Homo sapiens: one gene and its partners. The protein of the gene in region 3 purifies or fractionates together with the protein of the main gene of each other region. This does not show direct contact. Each region holds a gene or a part of one and is shown on either strand. Other genes may lie near its edges.

What was found. Proteins that work in one complex are often made in the same cells at the same time.
Region 1: the proteins of MPPED2 (region 3) and SULT1A3 purify together in Homo sapiens (affinity purification with mass spectrometry, with the first as the bait; 2 studies listed by BioGRID). This does not show direct contact.
Region 2: the proteins of MPPED2 (region 3) and NR2F6 purify together in Homo sapiens (affinity purification with mass spectrometry; 3 studies listed by BioGRID and IntAct, with this or other methods). This does not show direct contact.

What each region holds. Positions count from the first base shown.
Region 1 is NC_000016.10:30,201,454-30,205,962, forward strand, and holds the end of SULT1A3 (sulfotransferase 1A3), read left to right. Parts: intron 1-1,236; coding exon 1,237-1,363; intron 1,364-1,458; coding exon 1,459-1,553; intron 1,554-2,051; coding exon 2,052-2,232; intron 2,233-2,354; coding exon 2,355-2,467; 3' UTR 2,468-2,857; downstream 2,858-4,509. UniProt on the Homo sapiens protein: Sulfotransferase that utilizes 3'-phospho-5'-adenylyl sulfate (PAPS) as sulfonate donor to catalyze the sulfate conjugation of phenolic monoamines (neurotransmitters such as dopamine, (R)-adrenaline/epinephrine, (R)-noradrenaline/norepinephrine and serotonin) and phenolic and catechol drugs.
Region 2 is NC_000019.10:17,230,231-17,236,720, forward strand, and holds the end of NR2F6 (nuclear receptor subfamily 2 group F member 6), read right to left. Parts: intron 5,836-6,490; coding exon 5,269-5,835; intron 2,397-5,268; coding exon 2,122-2,396; 3' UTR 1,653-2,121; downstream 1-1,652. UniProt on the Homo sapiens protein: Transcription factor predominantly involved in transcriptional repression.
Region 3 is NC_000011.10:30,575,707-30,584,659, reverse strand, and holds part of MPPED2 (metallophosphoesterase MPPED2), read left to right. Parts: exon of another isoform or gene 1-194; intron 195-426; exon of another isoform or gene 427-1,785; intron 1,786-4,165; 5' UTR 4,166-4,286; coding exon 4,287-4,414; intron 4,415-8,953. UniProt on the Homo sapiens protein: Displays low metallophosphoesterase activity (in vitro). May play a role in the development of the nervous system.

The sequences.
Region 1 (4,509 bases), on a different chromosome or scaffold from region 3:
AGACTGTTCCCAGTTACTTAGGAGGCTCAGCGGGGAGGACTGTTTATGCAAATAGGAAGCTGCAATGAGCCCTGATGATCCTGCTGCTGCACTCCAGCCTGGGCAACACAGCAAAACCATCTCTACGAAAAAAAAAGTTCCCACTGACTGGCAAGGAAAGCCAGGAAGGGGGGCTCAGGTGCCCTCTCAGCCATGTACCTGTTCTTCTGGAAGGGCCTCCTCGCTTCTGCCAGGCTCATCACATCTTTTTTTTTTTTTGAGACAGAGTCTTGCTCTGTCACCCTGGCTGGAGTGCAGTGGCATGATCTCAGCTCACTGCAACCTCCGCCTCCCCAGTTCAAGTGATTCTCCTGCCTCAGCCTCCTGAGTAGCTGGGATTACAGGCGTGTGCTACCACACCCGGCTAATTTTTGTATTCTTTTTAGTAGAGACGGGGTTTCACCATGTTGGTCAAGTGGATCTCAAACTCTTGACCTTGTGATCCTCCTGCCTCGACCTCACAAAGTGCTGGAATTACAGGCGTGAGCCACCGCGCCTGGCCCTTTTTTTTTTTGAGACAGTTTCACTCTTGTTGCCGAGGCTAGAGCGCAATCGTGTGATCTCGGTTCACTGCAACCACCGCCTCCTGGGTTCAAGCAATTCTCCTGCTTCAGCCTCCCAAGGAGCTGGGATTACAGGTACCTGCCACCACGCCCGGCTAATTTTGTATTTTTAGTAGAGATGGGGTTTCACCATGTTGGTCAGGCTGGTCTTGAACTCCTGACCTCAGGTGATCTGGCCACCTTGGCCTCCCAAAGTGCCGGGATTAGAGGCATGAGCCACCACGCCCAGCCTTCATCACATCTTGAGAGAGGACACTGTCTGCCTCTTGCTCTGATGAGGGTCTGATGCAAGGATAGTGAGTCTCTACAGTGCACACTTAAGAAAGGCAGCATGTGGGTGCTCACAGGTCAGCGGAGGAGGGGGAGCTGGTGGGGACCAGGCATGCCTTGCTCCAGATCAGGATATGATGGCATTGGTGCAGATTATATTAGTATAGAATATGGTCTCAGGAACCAGGCAGGACTTTGGCTTCCGAGCAGGGTTCAGATCCCAGCTTGGCCCTACCTGTGCAGTGAGATCTCAAGCAAGTCAGCCTCTAAGCCTCAGGTTCCTCCTTTGCCAGTTCAACAGATGAGCTGGCCTGGGGTGGGCTGTGTGGTGATGGTGCTGGGGCTGGGTCCTCTGCCCCTGCAGGTGGTCTATGTTGCCCGAAACCCAAAGGACGTGGCGGTCTCCTACTACCATTTCCACCGTATGGAAAAGGCGCACCCTGAGCCTGGGACCTGGGACAGCTTCCTGGAAAAGTTCATGGCTGGAGAAGGTGGGCTTGACTGGAGGAAGGAGGGTGTGAAGCCGAGGGGTGGTGGCTATAACGTACAGCAACCCTGTGTCGGTGCCCCCTGCCCGCTTCTCTAGTGTCCTACGGGTCCTGGTACCAGCACGTGCAGGAGTGGTGGGAGCTGAGCCGCACCCACCCTGTTCTCTACCTCTTCTATGAAGACATGAAGGAGGTGAGACCGACTGTGATGCTTCCCCCCATGTGACACCTGGGGGCAGGCACCTCACAGGGACCCACCAAGGCCACCCAGCCCCGTCCCTGGGCGGCTCCCACAGCAAGCCCGGATTCCCCATCCTACCTCCCTGGCCCAGGCCCCCCCACTGCAGCCCCACCTGGCAGCAGGCTCGGCACAGCTTTCATCTTCTGCACCTGAGTCAGCTGCATGGGTGGCCACGGATCAGATACTTAGTCCTATTGCTTATCCTCACCAAAGGGTGTGCCACCCAGGGCCACAGTCATGGAAGAAGACCATCCCGGTCCTCACCCATAGGCGCCAAGCCCTGTTCATGATGGGATCACAGGGCAGAGATCAATTCATTTTACTCCAGAGACTAGGGCCCCAGGGGTTGAGGCTCTTTGGGGTTTCTAGGGGAAGTGGCCAGATCCCCTCTGAGGTTAGAGAGGGGGACCCGTTTTGTTTTGCTCCACTGAGGAGCCCTCTGCTGCTCAGAACCCCAAAAGGGAGATTCAAAAGATCCTGGAGTTTGTGGGGCGCTCCCTGCCAGAGGAGACCATGGACTTCATGGTTCAGCACACGTCGTTCAAGGAGATGAAGAAGAACCCTATGACCAACTACACCACCGTCCCCCAGGAGCTCATGGACCACAGCATCTCCCCCTTCATGAGGAAAGGTGGGTGCTGGCCAGCACGGGGGTTTGGGGCGGGTGGGAGCAGCAGCTGCAGCCTCCCCATAGGCACTTGGGGCCTCCCCTGGGATGAGACTCCAGCTTTGCTCCCTGCCTTCCTCCCCCAGGCATGGCTGGGGACTGGAAGACCACCTTCACCGTGGCGCAGAATGAGCGCTTCGATGCGGACTATGCGGAGAAGATGGCAGGCTGCAGCCTCAGCTTCCGCTCTGAGCTGTGAGAGGGGCTCCTGGAGTCACTGCAGAGGGAGTGTGCGAATCTACCCTGACCAATGGGCTCAAGAATAAAGTATGATTTTTGAGTCAGGCACAGTGGCTCATGTCTGCAATCCCAGCGATTTGGGAGGTTGAGCTGGTAGGATCACAATAGGCCACGAATTTGAGACCAGCCTGGTAAAATAGTGAGACCTCATCTCTACAAAGATGTAAAAAAATTAGCCACATGTGCTGGCACTTACCTGTAGTCCCAGCTACTTGGGAAGCAGAGGCTGGAGGATCATTTCAGCCCAGGAGGTTGTGGATACAGTGAGTTATGACATGCCCATTCACTACAGCCTGGATGACAAGCAAGACCCTCCCTCCAAAGAAAATAAAGCTCAATTAAAATAAAATATGATTTGTGTTCATGTAGAGCCTGTATTGGAAAGGAAGAGAAACTCTGAGCTGAAAGAGTGAATGCCCGGTGGGGCCACATATGGTCACCTCTCCCCCAGCCTTCAGCTCCCCAGGTCACCATATCTGGGGAGGGGAGAAGGGTTTGGAGAAGTAAAACCCAGGAGATGTGTGGAGGGGGGATGTCTGTTTAATCCCAGCACATCCTCTGCTGTCCTGCCCCAAGATGGTGGAGGACGTCGAGTCCGCCGGGCAGCGTCACTTTTTCTTGGGCTCCTTAGAAGCTACCAGGTACCTCTGGGCCACACTGAGATGAGGGGAGTAGCCGTCTGCATAGGAGGTGTCTTCAAACAGGATAGAATAGTCCTCCTGGGGCTGTGGGGCAGGTGGACAGGAAGGGCAGAGAGCAGCCCCGGGGCTGGTGTCACTCACTTGTTGGTGGCATGGCTGTAACTGACCACCTCGGCCAGGATCCACTGCTCATCCCCATCCACGGCCTTCACCCGGGCAGCCACCTTGTCTCCAGGTCTGGCCACGTAGTCTCCTGAGGCAGGGATGGCCCCACAGAGGGGTGGGGGCCTGTGAGTGGAACAAAGGATCAGTCCCAGCCCCTGGGCACCAGCCCCTTCCTCGCAGCTGCTGCCCTCACTTGTCACCAGGCTTCCCAATCCACAGGGGCAGGGTCATGGCCGACTGCTGCAGCAGGGTCATCAGCACCCCTCTGCGCATGGTCTTCCGGGGTGGCTCCAAGTCATTGTAGAGACCCGCGATCTTGGCCACTGTGGGAAGAAAGGGAGGCCTGAGGCCCCAGGGACAGGGGCTGGCCCTGACCCCCCAGCATGCTGAACTGAGCTGCTGGAGGAGCACCTGGGAGCCCCCAGCTCCCGAGTGAGCCCGAGGGCACAGCAGGACTGTGACCTGATCTGCCAGGTGTCCTACAGGGGCTGCTGCGCTCAACTACATATGGGTGAGACGGCAGCACACCAGGCACCCAGGGGAAGGAACCAGGGAGGGACAAAGCGGGTTCTGAGGTGCTGGTGAGGTTCTCTTCTTGATGTCGGTGCTGACACAGAAGTGTGTTTCGTTAGTGAAAAGTTCCTAAAATTCGAAGGGTCCCGCGGGAATCGGGGCGAGGCCGGGTGCCTCTTCAGCGTCCAGCTGCTCTACTGCCTGAATCCCTGGTACCCGGGCCCTGTCTACGTGGGGCTCACTGTCAACCCTGTTCGTCCAGCAGCACAATGGTGGCCGCAAAAAAGGCGGGGCTTGGCGGACCATTGGCCGAGGTCCCTGTTAAGAGGGGGAGGGTCTCTGTGCCCGGAGGAAGGCTCCCTGGAGGAGGCGGAACCGGGGGGCACAAGCCTGCTGAGAGGGACCCACTAGGTCTGTGACGTGCGCGGGACGTCCCGGGCGAGGCCTGTTGGTGGGGGGAGGCTGTCGCAGGGGAGGAGCCTAACGGGGAGGCGGTGCCCTGGGAATCTCGGCGTTAGAACTCCGGAGAGCAGCTGGCTGAGGCGAGGGTGATGATCCAGGCTGGGGTCCAGCGCAGGGGTCTTGGGGGGCACGCTGGGGTCGGGTGGAGCGCAGGAGGGAGAGGAATGAGAACAGGTGGGTACCTGGGCTGGAGGCGGGACCTGAGGTGGGCAGGTGCAGG
Region 2 (6,490 bases), on a different chromosome or scaffold from region 3:
CAGCCTTCAACGAGAACCTGGTGTCCTCTCCATCCCGCCCCTGCCTCAGTTCCCTTCTGGGAACGTGCCCACAAGAAACCCTCACTGACTCCACAGGAGGGGCCTAATCTCTCGTCTTCCAAGGCTTTCTTCAAGATGGACATGGGGAGACTAGGGAGCATTTTGGCAAACTGGGGCTGCTTAAGAGCTGAGCACTGGCCCAGCAGGCAGCGTGACAGACTTGACTTCTTCCCTTGCTGTTTTCAGGAGGGCATCTTTCTTTTTTTTTTTTTTTTCAGACAGTCTTCCTCTGTTGCCCAGAGTGGAGTGTAGTGGTGCGATCTCAGCTCACTGCAACCTCCGCCTTCCAGGTTCAAGTGATTCTCGTGCCTGAGTCTCCCGAGTAGCTGGGATTACAGGCTCCTGCCACCACGCCTGGCTACAGAAGGACATCAGTGAGAGGTGCCACCCCCACCACCATTCGGGCCCTTTCTCTCTGCCCTACAGCTCTGGTGCTGAATTCCACAGGTGCCTTTCCCACCACAGAGCTGTGCCACACACTCCCGAGGCTGGGACGGGAGAGTCCCTGGTACCCCACATGATTCCGTATCAACCCAGTGAAGCCCACATTTCAAAGTCTTGGCCTTGTAGGTGCCTGACTCCCAAACGTCAATCTCTGAAACAGATTTTTAGTTCCATGTGAGAAAAAAAACTGAAGTCAGATTGACTCAGGCACAAAAGGGGGGAGACTGAGTTCACAGAACTTAAAACACCCAAGGGTTTCAGGTATGGCTTGATCTGGGGCTCCAAAGGCATCTTGGGAAATTGATCTTCCATCCTTGGCTCTGCTTTAATTAGATTCTCCCAGTTCCAAATCCCACCGTGCAATCTCACTGGCTAGTTTGGCATCCCAGGGCCTCCATAAACCAGTTGCTGTGGCCCAGGGAATGGTGGTCTCTGATTGGCTCGCCTTACATCATGTGACAGGACTGGCCCCAGAGGTTTCTCCCAAGGACATTGGAGCCCAAACAAGATTAAGGGCCCGGCAGCTCATGCCTATAATCACACCACTTTGGGAGGCCAAGGCAGGTGGATCACCTGTCAGGAGTTCGAGACCAGCCTGGCCAACATGGCAAAACCCCTCTAGTTAAGGTACAAAAATCAGCTGAACGTGGTGGTGCGCACCTGTAATCCCAACTACTCAGGAGGCTGAGGCAGGAGAATTGCTCCAACTCGGGAGGCAGAGGTTGCACTGAGCCAAGATTGCACCACTGCACTCCAGCCCAGGTGAAACAGCGAAACTCCATCTCAAAAAAAAAAAAAAAAAAAAAAAAAAAGATTAAGGTTGACCAAAAGAAAGTAAGTGAGGCTAGGCACAGTGGCTCACGCTTGTAATCCACTTTTGGAGGCCTCAGGTGCATCACCTGAGGTCAGGAGTTCGAGACCAACCTGGTCAACATGGTGAAACCCCATCTCTACCAAAAATAAAATTAGCTGGGCATCGTGGTGGGTGCCTGTAGTTCCAGCTACTGGGGAGGCTGAGGCAGGAGAATCGCTTGAACCTGTGAGGCAGAGGTTACAGTGAGCCAAGATCACGCCACTGCACTCCAGCCTGGGTGACGAAGTAGGACTCCGTCTCAAAAATAAAAAATAAAAATAAAGACCAGGGAGGCTGTGCAGGTAGGAAATGTCTTTATTATTGGCCTTGAGTCATCATGTAGTGTCTGACATAGGTTACGTGTCCAGAGGATCTGCCTGGCACACGCTAGCTACCCCTGCCCACTGGAGCAGCCCCTCTGGCCGACGCCAGGCCTTTGTCCATCATGCCAGGGAAGCCAACCCCACCATCCCACAAGTTCATGCTAGGGGTGCTGAGGAACAAGGCTGTCCTAGGATTGGACCCTCCATCCTGGACAGGGGTCCTGGGGAGGATGAGGCTGAGGCCTGGATGATCAGTCTCTTTTTGGTTTCATGATCATTTAAAAAACAGAAAAGACAAACATTTCACAGTCTTTAAAAAATAGAAGTCTGAGGAGAGAAGCCAGAGTCCTGGGCCCCGGGAGGCCCCTCGAGGCCTCAGCATTCCCTGTCCCTTGAGGTCTGTCTGCAGGCCTGGCCACAGCACACGTGGCCCCGTCATGGTCACTGGCCCGAGCCGTAGGGCCAGTTGAAGGTACTCCCCGACAGCAGCATGTCTCTGATCAGTGTCTCAATGGGCGTCTTCCCCACCAGGCGCATGAAGAACAGCTGGGAGATGAGGGAGGCAGGGACCGCGCGCAGGGCGGGGAGCCGCAGCAGCAGGCGCCCGAAGCGCTGGGGCTGGGACGGGTACTGCGCCCGCACATACTCGGTGAGGGCCACCTGCGCCTTCTCCTGCAGGCTCTCAACGTGGGCCGGGTCTGAGAGGCCACAGGCGTCTAGGGGGACAAAGGCAAGTCAGACAGGTGGGAGGCAGCTAGAGAACACAGAGCCCACAGGGGTGACTAGGGGACACCACTCGCCACTGTGGGTAAGAACAGGGGGCCGGGCATGATGGCTCACGGCCACAGTCCCAGCACTTTGGGAGGCCAAGGCAGAAGCATCATTTAAGGCCAGGATTTGAGACCAGCCAGGGCAACATAGTATGATCCCTTCTCTGCAAAAACAAATCAGCTGGGGCTGGGCACAGTAGCTCACGCCTGTAATCCCAGCACTTTGGGAGGCTGAGGCAGGTGGATCACTTGAGGTCAGGAGTTCAAGACCAGCCTGGCCAACATGATGATATTCCGTCTCTACTAAAAATAAGAATAATTAGCCAGGCATGGTAGTGCGTGCCTGCAGTTCCAGCTACTCGGAAGGCTAATGGGAGGATCGCTTGAGCCTGGGAGGCGGAGGTTGCAGTGAGCCGAGATCGTGCCACTGCACTCCAGCCTGGGCAACAGAGGGAGACCCTGTCTCAAAATAAATAAAAAATAAAAATTAGTCCAGTGTGATGGCACACGCTTGTAGTCCCAGCTCCTCAAGAGGCTGAGGTGGGAGGATCTCTTGAGCCTAGGAGTTTGAGGCTACAGTGATCCATGATCATAGCACAGCCTGGGCGACAGAGTAATAAGACCCTGTCTCAAACAAAACAAAACAAAACAAAACAAAACAAAACAAAAAACGACCCTGGGATGCAAATGGGACTATCTAAGACTGTGTCGATCCTCCAGAGATAGTGAGGTGTTCTCATCTAACCAGTGACATAGGGGTGCAGGCAGTGATGTTTCAAGGGTGGCTGGCACCCAACTCATGCCTTTGGCAGGGAGACAGGTTCTAATTTTTTTTTCTTTAAGATAGAGTCTCACACTGTCGCCCAGGCTGAAGTGTAGTGGCACGATCTCACTGCAACCTCTGCCTCCGGGTTCAAGTGATTCTCCTGCCGCAGCCTCACAAGTAGCTGGCATTACAGGCACACTCCACCACGCCTAGCTAATTTTTGTATTTTTAGTAGAGACGGGTTTTGCTGTGTTGGCCAGGCTGGTCTTGAACTCCTGACCTCAAGCAATCTCCCCACCTCGGCCTCCCAAAGTGCTGGGATTACAGGGCCACCAGCCAGGCCAAGGAGATGGGTTCTAAGGAAGCTCGCAGGGAAGGTGGGGCTGGGAAGGGAATTTGATGAGGAAGACAGAGCCCAGAAGGGCCTACGGTGTGAGAGAATGTGGCAGCCTCTAGAGAGAGACCCAAGATAGGAAGCCAAGAAGAAATCTGGGAAGGCCAGGCGCGGTGGCTCACGCCTGTAATCCCAGCACTTTGGGAGGCTGAGGCGGGCAGATCATGAGGTCAGGAGTTCGAGATCAGCCTGACCAACATGATGAAACCCCGTCTCTACTAAAAACACAAAAATTAGCCAGGCGTGGTGACGCGTGCCTGTAATCCCAGCTACTCAGGAGGCTGAGGCAGGAGAATAGCTTGAACCAGGGAGGCGGAGGTTGCAGTGAGCCGAGATCGTGCTACTGCACTCCAGCCTGGGCGACGGAGTAAGACTCCGTCTCAAAAAAAAAAAAAAAAAATCTTCTGGGAAAACAATAAATAAAGCCATATTTATTGATTTTTGAGACGCGGTCTCACTCTGTTGCGCAGGCTCAAGTGCAGTGGGAAAATCAGAGCTCACTGGAGCCTCGAACTCCTGGGCTCAAGTGGTTCTCCCAACTCTGCTTCCTAAAGTGCGGTGATTACAGGCCTGAGCCACCTTGCAGGCCCAAAACCATATTTATCAAATGAAAGCCACCTCCCAGAGTAGCCTGGATCTGGTTCCTAGCCCCAAAGATACCTCTGATGGGATCTAGAGACTTCCAGTAGGTTAAAGAACTCCCAGGAGACAGGCTGGAGAGATCTTTGTCTAAAGGCATGGTGGCTTATGCCTGTAATCCTAGCACTTTGGGTGGCTGAGGCAGGACTGGTTGCGCCCAGAAGCTCAAGACCAGCCTAGGCAACACGGTGAGACCACGTCTCTACAGAAAACGTTTAAAAAAAAATTAGCCGGGAATGGTGGTGCACGCCTGTGGTCCCAGCTACTCAAGAGGCTGAAGTGTGAGGGAGGATTGCTTGAGCCCTGGAGATCAAGGCTGCAGTGAACCGTGTTCGGACAACTGCACTCCAGCCTGGGTGACAGGGTGAGACCCAGTCTCAAAAAATGGAAATACAAATAAAAAAATAAAGTGGAAAAAAAAAATTTGGCTGTACCGCCAGTCGCTGGAATACGATGGGCTACCACTGCTAGATAGCTGATGGTTAAGAAAGTTCTGGGGTTGCCCCGCCCCTCAACGGGAGGGGCCTCCGAGCCACGCCCCTACCCAGATCCCTACAACCCTGGCTACCTGGAGGTTGCCCTGGGAGCCCAGTGGGGGCCTGAGGGGGCCAGAACCAGGGGGTCAGGACCTTCCCTCCCACGTCCCCCCAACCTTGTGCTATCAGTGCTCACTAAGCCTGAAGAGCCCTTTGGTGAGGGAGTAGGGGTCTCAGGGAGCCTGGGAACAGGAAGAGGGTTCTGGGGTCTGGGCCCTGGTCCTGGCCCAGCCTTGGGTCTGGGGTCCGGGGTTCAGAGTTCTCCGAGAGTCCTGGGATCACGGAGTGGGGGTGTCACAGTGTCACACTGCTTACATCACCCCTCTACAGCCACCCAAGAGCGTTCACTCACGGCGCGTGCAGGGCCCCAGGCCTAGGGAGCGAGCGGGGCGCTATGGGGGCCGGAGTCTGGGTCCAGGCCGCCCTCCTCCTAACCTCCCTTGGGTCCCCCCATCCCGCGGCCCTCTTCGGAGCGTGGCTCACCGGGCGTGAAGAGCGCGATGGCCTTGAGGCAGCCATACTCGGCCGAGTCGACCTGCAGGCGGCCCAGCTTGTCCACCTGCTCCTGGAAGGCGCGCACCTGGTCCATGAAAGCCACGGCGCGCTCGGCGGCCATAGGCGCGGCGTGGAGGCCGGCGGCGGCCAGTAGCGGCGCCGTGTGCAGGGGCAGCGCCGCCTGCGCCGCGTTCAGCACGAAGAGCTCGCTCCAGCTCAGGCGCAGCAGCGCCACCTGGTCGGCCACCGGCAGCTCGGGGAAGAAGGGCGCGTGGCGCGCCCACTCCACGGTGCTGAAGAGCAGCCGCGCCGCCAGCTCGCACACGTTGTCGATGCCCAGCACCGCGCCCGCCGCGCCGCCCCCTGCGCCGAAGCGTCCGGCCGCCGCAGGGTAGGGCTCAGCGCGCAGCAGCTGCGCGATCAGTTCGGACACCGGCTGCCCCGGGAAGAGGTCTCCGCCGCTCGCCACTGCCGCCAGCGCCGAGCCCGGGGGGCTGCCCGAGGAGGCGGCCACGGCACCAGGCAGCGAGTGCGGGATGCGGCCGCGCTGCACCGCTGCGGGAGGCGGGGACAGGAGGGACATGGGGGCGGGAGGGGAGGCGGGGGGGGGGGGGGCGGGCAGCAGGAAACGGGGGAGGGACAGGAGATGGGGGAGGGGAGGGCGGGGCACAGAAGGCCGGGAGGAGAGGAGATTGGAGAGACAGGAAGGGAAGCGAGGGGTAGAGAGGAGAGGGCCGGAAGAGGGGGGATGAGGGGCCAAGTAGGTGCCCATAGAGACATGGGGTGGGGGGCAGGTGGGGGGGGGCAGGTAGGGAGAATAACGGGAAAGGGAGACAAAAGTCATCAAGGGGTCACTCAGGCCCTCCCCTCCAAAGCCTCCAGGCCCAGCCTTTCCCAGAATGCCCAACCCCACCCCATGGGCGCCAGGCTGGTTAGAAAGTAAGAGTCCAGGAGTCCCTGTCTAGGTCCAGCCACCACCCCCCACCCCCAGCTCCTGGGGACAAGGAGGAGCATCTAATAAACCTTTTGGAGCCTCCTAACAGATAGTCATGGGGTTCCCAGAGCTGAGGATGGGCCATGGAGGACTTGGGGACCCTGGCCAGCTTGGTCCCCAAAGCAACAGATCAATACCCACCCAGCACTGGCTCTCTCCTATGGAACAGGGATCATTTCTCTACCTTCCATCCCCCTCCCCACCAGATGGTGACCC
Region 3 (8,953 bases):
GATGCCCGACCGAGGATGGCGTGGTGTCAGAGCCATTGGCCGCCGGTGGTCATCAATCAATCCAGAGCTAGGGAAGAGGGAGAGAAAAAAGATAGGCGTCCAGCGGAGCCCGGGGCCGCCAGCGCTAGCGCCAGCAGTGCCAGCAGGAGCGGCGGCCGAGGAGGTGACGGAGGTGGCAACGGGGGACTGAGCGAGTAAGGCGCTGGTGTTTCAGGAAGGAAGGGGAAGTTGTAGCCGGGAAGAGCCAGCCGTGAGCCTAGAAGGGCAGGGCGAGTGTATGTGGTGTGTGTGTGTGTGTGTGTGTGTGTGTGTGTGTGTAGTTCATAAAGCACCCCCCACCCCGCCTCGCGCAACTGCCCACCACCCTAGATTTAAAACAAACAAACCAATCCAAAGTAGAGAATTCCGCGCCCCCCACCGCCCCACCTTATATAGACTCCACGAGTTGCCAGAGGCTCCGGAGAAAAGTCTTGCCCTCCCTCTCCGAAAGAATGTGTCACCCGGGTGTCCGCAGTGCTGGAGACAAGTTCAGGTGTAAGTGCGGTGGGAGGGAGGGCGCTCGGTGGACAGAAGCACGTGGAACTTTATGTCAGCCTCCCCCAAAAAAACCCTGGCGGAGAAGCCCGCCGGGAAGGCGTGTGGGCATCGCTCCCAGATACAGGGATGAGTAACTGGAAGTGGGCATAAAAGAGTAGGGGCGTGAATTAAGAACGCACTGGATCTGCGCGGCAGAGGGAGGAGAGAGCGAAATTTGGCGGATTTGGAGCAGGCAAGTTCCAAAGTCCCGCCAGGCTCGGTCTGGAGATCTTGGGGCAAGTGATTAAAATGAGCATCCTTGTTGAAACGAGAAAACCGCGGGCTCTTTTCTCATAGGCTGTGCTGGGCAGTGCAGGGGTAGAGAGGTCATGAGTTGTTGCTTTGAAAGTTTTGGTAAATTGGACTTCTGGTGTCTAGGAGGTGGAGACAGTTATTTAATTCCTCAGCTTTTAATCCCTTCATTGCCAGCCGACTTTAAAAGGTTTTCCAACTAGATTCCTGGAAAAGAATATTGCTAGTTGTACAGCTTAAAGGACAGAAGTGATTGCTGTCTAGGAAATGCAAAATGTACTCACATGATTTTCTTTTTAAAGAGAAAAATCAAACTAGCACCAGCATGAATGTTTGGCAGTGTCAGTCCCTTTTAGATTTTTCTTTCGGCTTCTTGATATTTCGTCCTGGGTTCCTTTGTTTTGTGGAAAGTGTGTTGAAGTATAAAATGAAAATTTATGAAAAGAATAGTGCTGTCTTTAAATATTGTGTGTAAAAAGTTAAAGTAAGTGTGAAGAGGGTGAGATGCACGAAAATCTGATCATTTGGAAGGTTTTACTGCCTAAATATACATCTTCTTGATAGTTGTAAGCAGTGTATCCTTCTGTCTTGTTTCAAGCTCTCTCCAAATTTCTCAGGTTATAGGAAGTGGTTTTGTCTATTGTCCCTTGTCTCTGAGAGTTTACCAAAAAAAAAAAAAAAAAAAAAAAAAAAAAAAGAAAAAGTCTTTTCCAGGTGTTTGTGTTTAAAATTCTTAAGATGTGTTCATTTTGAGATACGGGTGGGGATGAACATAGCATTTTAAAAAATAAGCCTTTTCTTGACTTGTCTGTAAAGGTGCTGTGAAAGTTTTGAAGCTCTCTGCCTCAGTCTGACATTTTCTTCAAAGGACTCCAGATTAAAGAAGATAGACGCTGCAGGTGCACTGTTTCGATGAAACATTTGAAAGGGAACATGGCAAAGATGAATTCAAATGAGGTGCCAGCCACCCATTTAGCCTTTCAGAGTTACAGGGGCCTGTGCTTGCTGATGAAAAGATGTTCTATTTGTCTTACTGGGGCAAAGGTGCAAAGAGGCATAGATGTTCAGTGATAGAGAAGGTTGACATTAGGATCAAGCGGACCATGTAGAAGTGCAAATTGATCAGCTGCTAAATTCTGTCTCTTCTTAGCTTCAAATAGTAGAACTTGGGTGGGTATCATGCTAACTGCTACAAGTCATTACCTAGATGTTTAAATATTAGGTATGTATATTTTATTTCTAGGCCACATTTGCTTGGTTTAATTAGTGTGTTTACTCCAGAAACATTTAAAATCTTTCTAGTACTGGGTGCAGAGATTGTTACTCAGAGGTCACAGCGGTCTAGACATGAATTTGATTTCCTTTGCTTCTTAATGTTCAGTATTTCACACAATAGACATTGATGGAAGAATGAACATAAGAATTGTCAAGTAATTTTTACACCACTCTCTAATTTATGCAAACACTAACTTCTCACAGTCTGAAAATGTGAATTTTTCCCCCTCTGTGCTTTGATGGCTAACATTCTTTTTAATGACAGTCATTTCTATAACAGGAAGATGTTTTCATTTGTATTTACTTTTCAGCGCGACGCAATTATGCAGTTTTGCGCTTCAGTAGTGTCTCGGTACTTTGTGTCTCAAAAGAGAATTACAGTACTTAGAACAGGACTGCAATTTGAAGCAGGTGTTGTGTTTTACTGTTATGCAAAATAACAGTAAAATATAATTGTGGGAGAAATTAAGGAAACAGCTGCAAACTTGGTATGAAAACTGCTACATTATGATTTGTAAGCAGTTCTTATAGATATCTTACATCAGAGGAGCAGGGAAAGATTTTAATTTAGTTAATCCTACTGGCCTGGTTGTCTATCATCTGGCGCTTAAAAGACTCATACCTCCCATGAAGTCAGGAAAAAGAAAGAGAACCCAAAGTGACACTTTGTTTAAAATGCCAGAGCACGGGGATTCATCTCTTGGCAGTGCACTTGACATTAGGAAGGCAGGCAAGGTGGGTGTTATTTAGCTTGCTTTGCTAATATGAAGAAGGCAATGATTTGAGTAGAACACTCTGGAATTTCTTAGCCCAGCTAGCATATGGGGGATTACTCAAGCCCCGGGTTGTAAAATAATAAAATAAATGGCCTATGGCAGGCCATCTGCCTTTTGCTCGATATTTAAGGTGTTTCATGCCAATTTTAAATCTCATCTTATTATTCTAAATATTTTTATTTGAAATAGCAGATAAGATTCTCAGAGCTTAATGGTGCACATGGCAAACCTATTCTGACGTTGTGCACTTAAAGTAAGAGCATGGGTTACCTAAGGGTTACCCAAGGAGTGTACTACGGCTTCTTCTCTACCGCACTGATCAATTGCAACAACTTGGACATGAGAATTTGCTTCCCTCAGCCTTTGCACACCTACCATAAAAATAGACATCTTCATTTCTCAACCCAGTGCAGCAAATAATATATTGACATTTATGAAAAAATCAGAACTAATGGAAATTTTAAAAAATGAAACCAATTACTGAGAATTACGTTGCACCAAGAATGAGGTGGCAGATGTAATGGCCGCCCTTCTTTACCGCTCCATCGGGGCTTGAAGAAGGGAGGTAATGAATGCATTCAAAGTGGTGGTCCAGACCTGGAGGTGTTTGGTTTTCCCCTGAGTGACTGGAGTGTTGAAAAAAATGACACTACATTTAACAAGAAAGATTTGCCTTACCATAAGGTTCTGGGCCAGTGAGGAATGCCAAGCATTGCCTACCTGTGTATTTTGGGAGCTGCTTGTGAAAGAAAAAAATATGTGTAATGTGTGGTTATTATGTGCATGTTATAGTAATACACATGTATTTGTTATAAGCACAACATTTTAAATTCTTATCTGTCATTGTGTTATATAGCTGCTTTAAACATGGAGCTTTCAAATGATTACGTGACACCAACTTTGTAAAGACCAAACATTCCAATTAGCAGGGCAGGTTTGGAAGATTCTTCACTTGGAGCACAAACCATGTATAGCCAGATGCCATGGCAACGGTGGATATGCCCCTTCCGTAATTCACGCTAAGTGCCATAATTATAATTAAAGAGGAAATCTTAGTTTGAACTCCATTGAGAAGATTTGCTAGCACCCAGCAATATGTATAGAGTGTAATATCCACTTTGAAGTGCATGAAGGGAAGAGAGTTGGGAACAGTTGTATCCATGAGCCAACAACACATATTCAGATTTTCCCTGAACTAGTTTCATGTCTAGATGTTAAATTTATGTCTCTTAGAACACCCTTTTTCTCTTTGTTCTCATTTTATATACATTTTTTTTTTCTTTCAGAAATGCACAGCGGTATTGATGAGTAGATCCTTGGATTCAGAGGTTGGCTGAAACGCACCATGCCTGCTTCCATCTTTTGCTCTGTAAAGTTGTGAATTGCTCATGCCTATAGGGAGGAAGGATGGCACATGGGATTCCTTCTCAAGGCAAAGTTACCATAACGGTGGATGAGTACAGCTCAAACCCCACCCAGGCATTCACGCACTACAACATCAACCAGAGCAGATTCCAGCCTCCACATGTACATATGTAAGTATCGCTTATGAACTTAACAAAATTAGCAATCAAGAAAATAAAAAGAAAAAAAAGAAAAGCATTCACTATTAACTTCTGCTAGGGAGACTAAAAGGTAAATGATTTACAAATCAGATGGATATCTGTGGTTTCAAATACAGCTCAGGAGGAATCCCATACATCTGTGTAACATTTCAAATTTTCAGAGCACTTTCAACCACAATTGAAATTAGATTTTCAGAGCCTCTGAGGACTGGTGGTTGGTTGCCCCTATTTATAGATAAGAACGGAAAAGAACAGAGAGGTTAAAGTATTTGCCACACAGCGAATTTGCCTGAGACTCCTGACCCCTAGTTCAATTTGCTTTACATTGTATTGCTTGCCTCCATTCTGAAATATTTCTTTAAAATTTCTGTAGTTTTTTTTTTTTTTCCCACACCTCACCCCACTAGCCCTTTACATTCAGCTGGGAAATAGGCCTAATTGGGACTAATTGTCCAGCTACTGCTAGATCCATTGTCTTGCCTGTTGCTAGTGAAACGTGTGCTGCATGCTACAGGACTCAAACAATATGGGGAACAAAGGAATAAGGGACAGTGGAACAGTTGGTTCCAGGAATTGTACTTTCCTCTCACTCCCTAATACTATTTAAGTCATGTTGAGGTTTAAACTGTTTAAGGAGCAAAGTGTGGCAGAAACCCAGAGGCAAGGATTTTGCAGCACCTGGTTGCACATCAACTTTTTTCTGGTCCTCTGCTACAGGATGTGCTGGGCTTTCAGAAGAAGGGAGCAAAAGGTCACCATCTCTCTTGTTTATTCAAGGCCTGGTGCTCATTCTCTATGAGACCCTTCCAATGTCTAACATGAGTCTTTCATAGTAGGACTAAACCTCTTTGAAAACTATTGTATAGTCAAGATAGAAAGGAGGTTAGAGCTCTGTTGACTGTTTTTACCACTCCTGGAAGAATTGAACTCGGGGCATGTCCAAGTCACAAGCTCTTTTTTTAGGAATTGTTTTACATGAGCATTTAAAAAAAAATAGTAGGACACCCCAAATACACACACCCCCCCACCCTGGAATTTACAAACGCTAACCAAACAAAAGGGTCTTTCCATTGACTGCCTGGATATTAGTGTAAATACTAGGATGTTGCTTTGCAAGTATATTCTGGAGAGCGAGTCAGTTACCTATGATGAGATTTCTGCAAAGCAGCCGTTTTAAAGCAGCATGCTTGAGTGACCAAAAAAAAAAAAAAAAGGAAAAGACAATCCTTGTAAGTGGTTACTGCTAAACTATTTGAAAGAACTTTATACGTTCTTTAAATGAGAATATATTCATGATTATGAAGGATCGCTAACATGATTTTAAGGAAAAATGGATAAAGTTTTTCTTTGTTAAAATAGCTTTTCTGAACAATAAATATCTGTTTAATTCAAATATTCTTTTTATTCTACTGTTTCTATTTACTTGTTTTTCTTCAAATATGTTACAATATTTGTGTAAGCCATACTTTAGAATAGCTTCAGTTCTGTTTTGCTGGTGTTATGTTTTTGTATTAAAGAACTACAAGGAACTTTGTAGATGCTGTTTCCATTCAAGCAAAACAAAGTGTGTTTTGCCCAGATTCCTTGGAAAATGACTGCTGGGGAACCTCAGCTTAGTTCTCAAGTCTGCAGACATCTGCTCACTTGTTCTTGGCCTCAAGATTCCACTGGCGAACTGTGAATGCACAGAGATATTTTAAAAATCATGTAACTTTAAAGTTGATCTGCTTTTATCTAGCCATAACAAATTTGAAGGATCAAATTATACCTCTTTTGAAAAAAATGGCTTGAAAATGGGGCAACCTAGACAGCTGTGTAGTGCTTTCACCAGACTCCTGATCTTGGAATAGAGGATTCTTCTACAGGCTAGTTCCAGTGTACCTTTTCACTTTTATTGCCAATAAGGGCTTCCCATCTGAACCCTCTGCTTCAGCCACACAGTTTGGCTCCCTGTCATCTGAACACATCTTAGCACCTTCCATCTTGGTGCCATTGCCATCACTGTTTCTTACAGAGCGTAACACATTTACGCTCTGCTCATCAAATGCCTCAAAGCTAGTTTAGGTTCCTCCACTTAAGCCTTTTCTACCTATCCGTTTCCAATCCAAAATGATCATGCCTGCCCAAGTTACTTGGCAACACTTTATACCACCTCCATTATTATTTTTCTTAATCTGTCTGTTTCTCTGTCTACCTACCTACCTATCTACCTATCTGTATCTATCTATCTGCCTATCTGTCTCTTATTCTTTTAATTTTTTACTTCTTAAAGAAAGGCTTGTTCTTCTGAGCAGGTGACAGATGCTCAAAAACACTGGTCAATTGATCCATTGATTTGATTATGCATTGAATAGAGAGAATAGATTGATGCTTGGAGATTTTCACTGGAATTTTTCTGTCAGTTCTTGACATTTTGAATGTTTTCATGATGGTACGTGTTGTCAGGAGGCTGGCTTACCTTTTCCCTGGCTTTACTCTTTCTTGCTTGAGAACATGCCATTGTTTTGTAGGCCTGATGGCCTCACACAGTGACTGACCTATGGTAGGTGGTCAGGGATCTTGGTTGGATTTAATCATGTCATATTTCTGTTATGTTAAGAAACAAAAATTGGCCTTAATCTAATTAGAAACTTTAATTGGCTAGAAAATATCTATAAAATATTTAGTCTAAAATGTCTTCAGTTTTTCTGAAAATTTCAACATGTCATGGCAGAACTTTGCTCCTCTCCCCGAGGTAAAGATATTTTGTCTTTTCCACTTGCGTAGTTGCTCATTTATTTTGCATGGGATTGTTAAATTATTTGCTTCCTTTTTTCACTTACACTTGAGATTTCTGAAGACCCCTGACAGATCACTTGGATTATAGTTAAAAACCCTATCCCTTTAATGATGTCTTACTTTCTTTTCTACAGCCTTGTGATGGTAGTTGGGGTTTTTCACCTTAATTAGGAAGAGCTCACTTCCCATTTAATTCAATTAGTCTCAGCTCAGCTTTGTGACTAACAAATTTTCTTTTCCAAGTCTCAGTTTACTCATCTGTAAATATTTGCACCAAATGATGGTTAAGGATCTTTTTAGCTCTGACTTGCTAAGATTAAGATTGCAGTTAAGACAATGTTTATTTGCAAGGCGATGCTATTAAGGAAACAAAAATAAATAAGACCCAGTCCCCATCTTCATGAAGCTCATTGCTGATTTCAGAGCTGATGTTTCAAACAGCTTTAAGAAGCATTGGTTTAGTTTTCATCTCTGAGTTCTGACAAGATTACCACCAAGCTCTCTAAGAATGACTGGCTTGAATCTCTGCTTGTTATGGAGGGAAGTTTTTTTTTTTTAGAAAGCAATCCTGTATGACCTTGGGAAAGAAAATTAAAGCACAGCTGGAGTTGGCAGAGCAAAATTTAACCTAGAATTTGTGTGCCTCACTTACCCAGACTCTTGAGCATACTAATAGATGTGATGATTGAAGCCCAGCAATTAACAGGGTTTCATTTTTCCACAACCCCTTCATCTTTCCCAAGCAGAATGATAAGAAAAATTATTTAGTATTTTTAATGATGGTGGGAGGAGGTGCTGAAGGAGCCAATGTAGGTCTGAAAACACCATAAAGATTTTGTATGTGTTTCATAATCTGAGGCCTAATCAAATGTTACAAAACTTTATTAGTAGGGTATCCAGCCATTTCAGTTTTAGCATTGAAATCCCCGTGTTATTGGAATGCCATAGGACAATAGGATACCCTACTCAGGTTAATTCTTCATGTTTTTCTTTAAGGATTGACGACTAGGGAACTCAAATCAAGCCTTGTTTTCAGTTTTAGCCACTTTCCTTATCTGCGCCTTCTGTTGTTAACACCCCTTGAATCTTACACTGCACTTGTTCTTTTACCCTGGTTCTGTGGAGGCAGGTTAGCATAGTGGTCAATATCACCTGTGGAATCAGATTACCGGGTTTAACATTTGCTTGCACCACTGACTAGCTGTATAACCAACTGTGAATACATACTCTAACTTCCTTATGTTTTATTTTTCTATCTGTAAGATCCGGACCATAAAAGTAATGCCTATCTCAAAAGGCTGTGGAGGATAGAAGGATGAAACAGTATTACATGTTAATGCTTATACATACATAGTCTATGCTCAATAAATGTTAGCTGTTATCATTAATAATTTTTTCATTGATTCTGGGTTTTTAATTTTAAACTGCCAATTCATTTGAAAAGCAGTGGAGTGTATACAAATGAATAAATAAAGTCATTGCTAAATCTTGTCCTTTCTTCCTCATGGAGCTATGAGCAGCAAAGAGTCATGGAAACTTTTCTAGGTGGGATTTTGGTTTGTCAGGGTTGGCAAGTGTCCCGGTTTAGTGCCTTTCAAGATTATAAACAGCCTAGGAGTGTCTCATCCACCTCCAGTTACTCCACGGGAGTGGCAGTCCCAAGGCGGGGATGGAATCTTGTGAGCTGAGTGCTGACTGGTTGCTGTCTGTGGAATCACAGTGGCCTTCCTC